Regions from separate parts of the Homo sapiens genome. Here region 2 is linked to region 1. A link means that fine-mapping ties the variant in region 1 to the expression of a gene that starts in the linked region. Tissue or cell type: cerebellum. Region 1 holds a variant in brackets; the other region holds the start of a gene. All regions are shown on one strand. Distances are between the middles of the regions.

The links. PIP is the estimated chance that this variant, and not a neighbour inherited with it, causes the effect.
Region 2: TMEM98 starts here. The variant in region 1 is the best candidate, but not a certain one, in a credible set for the expression of TMEM98 in cerebellum (GTEx, PIP 0.82).

Annotation. Positions count from the first base shown.
Region 1 is chr17:32,949,790-32,954,028 of GRCh38, reverse strand. No RefSeq gene overlaps it. Among named protein-coding and RNA genes, the nearest start is that of TMEM98, 24 kb to the right of the region's middle. The variant T/C (reference allele first, on the strand shown) is at 1,713.
Region 2 is chr17:32,926,396-32,930,634 of GRCh38, reverse strand. It overlaps TMEM98 (transmembrane protein 98), which reads right to left and starts at 2,482. Exons shown (of 8, transcript NM_015544.3): 1 at 2,398-2,482.

The DNA of each region.
Region 1 (4,239 bases):
ATTCCTTGGTGTGCATTCTTTCCCAGTTCTTCCCTTACTGGCTGCATGAGCTTGGAGCGTGAGTTTCCCTTCCTAGGCCTGTTTCCTCCTTGCTAAGTCTCATTTTCCTAACTAAAAACCAGTAATAATAGTTGCTACCCCTCCAGATCTCCCAGGCTGTTTTAAGGAATCCACAGACTCCAGTAAGATGAGTGTGGCATGTGTTCTCCTGAGGAGAGGAGATGGGGAATGAGCAAAGTCCTACCAGGTCAGGACAGAGTGATCAGTCCAACAACAACACCAACTAAGAGAAAGGATGTCCCAGAGGCCAGGAAGGGTACAGGGAGAGGGGCATGAAGAGAAGTTGATTGATGGGTACAAATATAGACTTAGATGGAAAAAATAAGATCTAGTATTCGATACATCAGCAGTGTGACTATAGTTAACATTAATCAATTGTATATTTCCAAATAGCTAGAAGAGAATAATTTGAATGTTCCTCGCTTAAAGGAAGATAAATATTTAAGGTGTTAAAGCAAATTAAATATGGCCTGAGAAGGACTCCATACTTCTATATATGAGTGATTGTGGACAAAATGTAACCCAGCTTAATAGGCAGGCAAGATTGAAAACCTAACTTAGGAGTATGCACCTGTAACAATAGCTGAGTCTTGGCCAATCCCAGTGGCCACACTTCATCTACTCATGGACTAAGTTAAACTACTCATGGACTAAGTTAAACACCAACTGTAACCAATCCAGCTGTTTCTATACCTCACTTCTTATTTCTGTACCTCACTTCCCTTTTTATAAATTTGTTCTGACCACAAGGCACCCCTGGAGTCTCTCTGAATATGCTGTGATTCTGGGGGTTGCCTGATTCATGAATCATTCATTGTTTGATTAAACTCCTTTAAATTTATTTCCACTGAAGTTTTTAACAAAGGTATTGGATGTCCCAATTACTGTGATTTGACTACATGAATGTACCAAATTATCACCTGTACCCCAAAAGTATGTATATCTAATATACATATCAATAAAAATAAATTTTTAAAAGAAGAGAAAAGGAGTCTTATTCACCCTTCATAAGACAAATGGGGCTGGGTCATCTGGAAAGACAATAAGAGAAAAGCCTCTCTCAGGGGATGTATTAGTCTGTTCTCATGCTGCTAATAAAGACATACCCAAGACTGTGTAATTTATAAAAAAAAAAAAAAAGAGGTTTAATGGACTCACAGCTCCACATGGCTGGGGAGGCCTCACAATCATGGTGGAAGAGCAAAGGACATCTTTTATGGCAGCAGACAAGAGAGAATGAGAGAGCCAAGTGAAAAGGGAAACCCCTTATAAAATCATCAGATCTCGTGAGACTTACTCACCATCATGAGAACAGTATGGGGGAAACTGCCCCCATGATTCAATTGTCTTTCACTGGGTCCTTCCCACAACACATGGGAATTATGGGAGCTACAATTCAAGATGACATTTGGGTGGGGACAGAGCCAAGCCATATCAGGGGAGGACAAAGCCAAAAGTTTCAAAGAGTAAAATTAATAATCCCATTTGCAGAAGTAAATAACAAAGAGGAGAAGGAGAAATGGTAAAGTGCTGAATTGAAGCAGAAATCACTTTTAAAAAACCAAAGAGCCAAAGTGAGAAGTCTGTATAAACAGAATCCCAGTAATTAGGAGAGACAAACGGAGTGGCAGGCAGGAAGGCAATGCCATGCA[T/C]AGACCTTCGCCAGAAATGCAAGGAGGTCAGAGGGCTGCCACAGGGTTGAGAGAGAATGCACAGGGAAAGGTGAGAAATAAGAAAGTAAGGACATCAGAACAGTGTAATCGTTCTGTTTCAGGAGCAAGGGAAGGCTCAGAGAAAGTGGGAGGCAGGCTTTAGAGGAAGACTACAGCATCATTCCAGAATGGGCCAAGCTATAAACTTAAGAAAGCACTCCCCAGGGAGTCAGAGTCTGGCAATCAAGGTCTCTATATGGCCTCAAGACCAAGAAAACCTCAGATTGCTGTCCCAGGAAAAGGAGAGGCCTAGCCAAGGCAATAATAATACATTTAGAAAGGACAGTGGGCAGCTATGGCAAGCTGGAGCCCTCCAGCTGCAGCTCCAGCTCAAGTCCCACCACAAGCACTGGCAGGAGCAGGTGAGGCTGGGGGTGCCATGCAGGATGGCAGTGGACCACTCAGCCACCATAAGGGAAAACACAGCAGGGATGACAGAGCGAGCTGTGGGAGAACCATCACATTCAGATCCATGATAAGCTTCAGACCAGACAATGAGCCAGGGACCAATGTTGGCAGGAACACTGGAGGTAAAGAAGATGCTAAACAACTGGGGAAGACAAGGGAAGGGACTGGAGAGGAGCAGGCACATGGGAGCTGAGGCTCAGACACCTGCCTTCAAAGATCACATGGAGACAGACCAAGTGAAGTATCTCCCCCAAGCAGGGATGGGCCAGCAGGGCAAACAAGGAAAGTCATCTGAGTACTTGCTGCTGGAAGAAGACACACTGAGCATCATCAGCATGTGCATTTGTGTGTTTGTGTACTTTGAAGTGTACATAGCTACATTTTTTTTTTGAGACAGCATCTTGCTCTGTGGCCCAGTCTGGAGTGCAGTGGGGCAATCTCAGCTCACTGAAACCTCCGCCTCCCAGGCTCAAGCAATTCTCCTGCCTCAGCCTCCCAAGTAGCTGGGACTACAGGCACACATCACTGTGCCTGGCTAATTTTTGTATTTTTAATAGAGACAGGGTTTCATCATGTTGGCCAGGCTGGTCTCAAACTCCTGGCCACAAGCAATCCACCCACCTCAGCCTCCCAAAGTGCTAGGATTACAGGTGTGAGCCACTGCACCCGGCCCATGGCTACAATGTTTTTGAGCATCTACTGAATGTAAAGCAGTGGGTGAGGCACATTACATACATTAGCTCCGTCAATTCACACATACACACAGACACACACACACACGATTTTGTGTAAGGCCACACAGTAAGTGGCAGAGCTGGGATTTGAATGTGTTTCTTGCATCCCAGGCCTATGCTCATAATCGCTCTTCTATTCCTTAAGATAAAAGGTAATACCATTTGACCCAGCCATCCCATTACTGGGTATATACCCAAAGGATTATAAATCATGCTGCTAATAAAGACACATGCACACGTATGTTTATTGCGGCACTATTCACAATAGCAAAGACTTGGAACCAACCCAAATGTCCATCAACGATAGACTGGATAAAGAAAATGTGACACATGTACACCATGGAATACCATGCAGCCATAAAAAAGGGTGAGTTCATGTCCTTTGTAGGGACATGGATGAAGCTGGAAACCATCATTCTCAGCAAACTATTGCAAGGACAAAAAACCAAACACCGCATGTTCTCACTCATAGGTGGGAATTGAACCATGAGAACACCTGGACACAGGAAGGGGAACATCACACACCGGGGCCTGTCGTGGGGTGGGGGGAGGGGGGAGGGATAGCATTAGGAGATATACCTAATGTAAATGACGAGTTAATGGGTGCAGCACACCAACATGGCACGTGTACACATATGTAACAAACGTGCACGTTGTGCACATGTACCCTAGAACTTAAAGTATAATAATAAAAAAATTTAAAAATTAAAAAATAAATAAATAAAATAAAAATAATAATAAACAATGGGAAGCTTTTGGAGATTTAAAAAAATAAATAAATTTTCACTTAAACTTGAAGAAAAAAATTCCCACTATGTGTCAGTCTAGGTATAATTACTAGGTATTGGAAATACAGTATTCAGCAAAAGCATATAGGGTTCAAACTTTCATAGATTTGACACAGAAAGACACTATTCAGACAATCAGGCTAATCAATATAACAAACTGATACACGTTCTGAGAAAGAAGAAATGAATCATAGTCCTAGGTGCAGGATAATCAGATGTGCACACAGCAGCTTTCCAAATGTGACCCAATCAGCCAGTCTGGGAATTCCAGGTTGACACGTTCTTATTCCTCCCTCTTCAGACAAAGGCCACAGAAATTAGATCAAGCACCTTGAATCAAGCACCACTGTTTAGCTTTCCAATGTCCTCACTCCAGAACTACAGGGAGAGGGTATACTAACATGCCTCAGTTGGCCTCCAGGGTGAAGCAAAGTTGTGGCTAAGTGAACACTTCCTCCACTCTACTAGGAACCCAGCGGTCCAGTGAGGTGCTGTAGCCCACACCTGAAGGTTCCCAAGAGCTGATTATGCACATCA
Region 2 (4,239 bases), 23 kb after region 1:
CTGAGATGGACATTCACTCTACTTTTCCTTTCTAAGGAAGAAAGAAGACTGTAAAGGTTCTGGAAAGAGTTCTAATTGCCAGTTTCAGTGTTGGAAACTTAGAACTGGCATTAAAGTGTCCATTGCCTCTTGCCAGTTTTCACTCAGGAGACTGTTTCACATCTATTTCTTTTTCTCATAGAATTCTTTTATTTGTGTACAAAAGAAGAATGAAAGAAGTCCGTGCATTTGTATATACTAGTGCACAGAATTTTTTTAGTATGAACACATCGATAGGCACAAACACACATAAAATGTAACTTGATAACAGTAGCTGCCTCTGGAGAGAGGAACTGAAGAACGGGGTCTTTCACACCTATTTTAAACTCATAAGCCAGAAGAACAAGGGCATCTCACAGAAGTACATATTCACTGTTATTTCATTGTAGGCCTCCTGCTTGTCTCTCTTTGTGCAAGCATTCTCCCCTCTCTGGGCTTTAATTTCCCCACGTGAAAAAAAGACACTCTGACTTAGGAGTCCTTAGAATACCAGGAGGGTGCTTTTCCTCTATTTGCACTTAATTCTATCCTCCATGTCTCGGAGGGTCCAAACGCTCTCGGTCACCATTCACTAAGTATTTATTGATCATCTACTATGCATCATGCACTGGAGATTGGAGATAGATAGGACAGAGACCCTGATCTTAAGGAGTTGGTGGGAGAGGCAGACAGGTGACAAACCACTTCAACTCCATGTGCCTGTGCTTCCTGCAGAAGAACACAGAAAAGAGAGTAACTGTGCTTGCATGACACTTTCTGGGAACTGACACTTTCACAGGAGTGGTGAGGCTAGAGCTGGGTTTTGAAGGATGAGCAGGAGTTTGCCAGGTAGACAAGGTTGGGACATGCCTGGCTTAAAGTGCCAAGGAAGCCTTTCTCAAAGGGCTCACAGAGCTGCTCTCCCATCTCGAGCTCACTGGACCACAAGAAGGAGAAGGCTGGCATCTGCCTCTTCTGTGTGTGTCGCTGATTTTGTGAGAGGTAGGTGGGGGAGGGGGGTAATTCTCAGGGTCCGCCTCTGTTTCTCTACGTGTGTGTTTCTCTTTACTGTCCTTTTAACCACCTCCTTTTGGCCTTTGTGTTTTCTGCCTCCTCTTATGTCTGCCTTTATCTCTGTTTCTCTTTCCAGGCATCTTTCCCTCTGCTGCTCCCGTCTCCCGCTTCTCAGTGTCTCTCCTTCCCCTCCCCCGGTCCCCAGGCCTCCAAGACCACCCACTTGGTTTCCTCTCTCTTCCTGTGCGTTCTGAGTGTTTCTCTGATCGTGTTTCTCTGGGTGTGTGTGAGCTGAGTGTGCTTCTAAGTGTGTTTCTCCGTGTGTGTTTGTGTTAGTGTGCGTGAGCTGTTTTTCTGTTTCTGTGTGTGTGAGCTGTTTCTCAGAGTGTGCTTCTGAGTGTGTGAGCTGTGTTTCTCAGAGTGTGTTTCTGAGTGTTAGCTATGTTTCTGAGTGTTTTCTGAATGTGCTTGTGTGAGCTGTTTATCTTGAGTGTGCTTGAGTGGGTGTGAGCTGATTGTGTTTCTCAGAGTATGTTTCTGAGTGTGTGTGAGCTGAATGTTTCTCCGAGTGTGCTTGTGTGTGTGAGCTGAGTGTGCTTCTGAGCGAGTGTGAACTGTTTCTCGGAGTGTGTTTCTGAGTGTGTGTGAACTGAATGTTTGAGTGTGCTTCTGTGTGTGAGCTGAGTGTTTATCTTGTGTGCCTCTGAGTGCGTGTGTTTCTGAGTGTGTGTGAACTGAATGTTTCTGAGTGTGCTTCTGTGTGTGAGCTGAGTGTTTATCTTGTGTGCTTCTGAGTGCGTGTGTTTCTGAGTGTGTGTGAACTGAATGTTTCTTAGTGTGCTTGTGTGTGTGACCTGAGTGTTTATCTTAAGTGTGCTTCTCAGTGCGTGTGAGCTGAGTGTGTTTCTCGGAGCGTGTGTTCGTGGTCCTTCTCTGCAGTCTGCGTGGCGTTTCTTTGTGTTTTTCTTTCTCTATTCTTCCCTGCGTACTGAAGAGTAAGTTTTCCTGTTTTTCTCCGTCTCTTTCTCTCTCCCTTACTTTCCCCCTTCCCCTCCGGTTCCAGAACCACAAGGACAGAACAGACCCAAGACCCTACCCGCTTCCCCGTGCTCGTCCACCCAGGACGCCCACTCTGTCCCCGGGAGGGAGGGACCCCCAGCCCGCCCGGGACGCGCCGCACGGGCCCCGGAGCGCTCCGGGGCGCGGCTCCTACTCCTTTCCCCAACTTCGGGCGCGCGGCCCCGCGGCAAGAACAAAGCTGCGGCACCCGCCTCCCCTCTCCCCGGCAGCCGGGCCAGGCCCCGCGCCCCCGCGTCCCCTTCCCCGACTCGCCGCGGCCCGCCCGGCCCGGCGGGGCTCACCCACCTCAGGCTGTGGCTCCCGGGCGCATCCCGCGACTGCCCCGCCGATGGCAAAGTCCGGGCGCGGGCGCGGGCCTGCAGCGGAGCATGCCGGGAAGCGCCGCGGCCCTAGGAATCCAGCCTCGCGCCCCCGCGCCCCGGCCCCCGGCCCCCGGCCCGCGCCAAATCCCCGCCGCCAGGCGCCGCCGTCACCGCCAGGCCCCCCGGCGGCCGGGGCAGCTGGGAGGCGGGCCCTGGCGACCCAACACCCCTTCCTCGCGCCCCCGCGGTGGCCCGTCCGGGCGGCAGACGGAGAGGGGAGCGGAGGGTCCCTGCCTGCGCCCCGCCCCGGGCTGGCGGTCCCAGGCGGCGAGCGCGGATGGGTACCGCAGGGGGGCTGGCGGCGGAGCCAGTGTGCTCCGCCACGGACTGTCCCATTGAAACCCTGCCTCTGCCACTCACTAGCTATGGACAACTTAGTTCAGCCTTTGTGCCTCGGTCTGTAAAACGGGGCTGCTGCTTGTCAGCATCCTCAGAGTTGGTATTAGGAATGATGGGATGCAGGATGCATCGGACTGCCTGGCCCAGGGTAAAGAGTGAATCGAGGGTCGCTCTTATTTACAGCCTGACCCACGGGTCAGTGAGAAGCAGGCCCACCCCTGGCGACTGCCTAGCCAGGGGCAAGAGTACAAATGCAGAGCCCTTGCTAGTAGTCTTGCTGCTTCTATTCCCACACGACTCCATCCCATACATACTGAAGGGGGTCTACTGGTTCAGGCAAACACACACCCCCTACCCTGCCATCCTTCATTCTAACGATACTCAGGCCAGGCAGGGCAGGCTGCCCTGGGTGGATGGAAGTCAGACCTTGGAAGCAGGCTCAGGGCTGTTTACACAGGGATTTCCGGAGTCCAGGGTACCAGGAGCATGATCTAGAAGGGAACATACGCTCCAGCTGGAGTGGGCCAACTAAAGCACGGGGTTCAGGGCAGGATCCCAGTGGTCCAGGTCTGAGGTCAGTATCGGTGACAGTTAACAAAGGATACAGATTGGGTCCTAGGCCGCTTGACACAGGGTCTGCAAACTGGTACCCCCAAGGCCACATCCAGCCCACAGAGGTGGTTTTTTTGGTTCATACTTTTGTTGTTTTATTTTAATTTTTTTGAGACAGAGTCTCAGTCAGTCGCCCAGGCTGGAGTGCTGTGGCACAGTCTTGGCTGTTTACGGGTGGAGGGTGTCCAGGTTCTTGCCTTTATTTATTTATTTATTTATTTATTTATTTATTTTTTGAAACAGAGTCTGGCTCTGTTGCCCAGGCTGGAGTGCAATGGCACGATCTCAGCTCACTGCAACCTCTGCCTCCTGGGTTCAAGCGATTCTCCTGCCTCAGCCCCCCAAGTAGCTGGGATTACAGGTGTGCGCCACCACGTCCCACTAATTTTTTTTGTTATTTTTAGTAGAGACGGGGTTTCGCCACGTTGGCCGGGCTGGTCTGGAACTCCTGACCTCAGGTGATCCACCCACCTCAGCTTCCCAAAGTGCTGGGATTATAGGCATGAGCCACCGCACCCGGCCTGTTCTTGTCATTTTGAACAAAGAATTAGACAAAAGGCACAAGCAAAGCAAGTAAAGAAAGAATGAAGCAACAAAAGCAGAGATTTATTGAAAACAAAAGTGCATTCCACAAGGTGGGAGCAGGCCCCTGCATATGGGCTCAAGAGCCCCTGCTGTAGAATCTTCTGGGGTCCAAATACCTCCTAGAGGTTTCCCATTGGCCACTTGGCGTTCACCCCATGTAAATGAAGTGGTGCCACAATTAGTCTGATTGGTTGTGGAAAGCAACCAATCAGAGGCTGAAGTGAAGTTA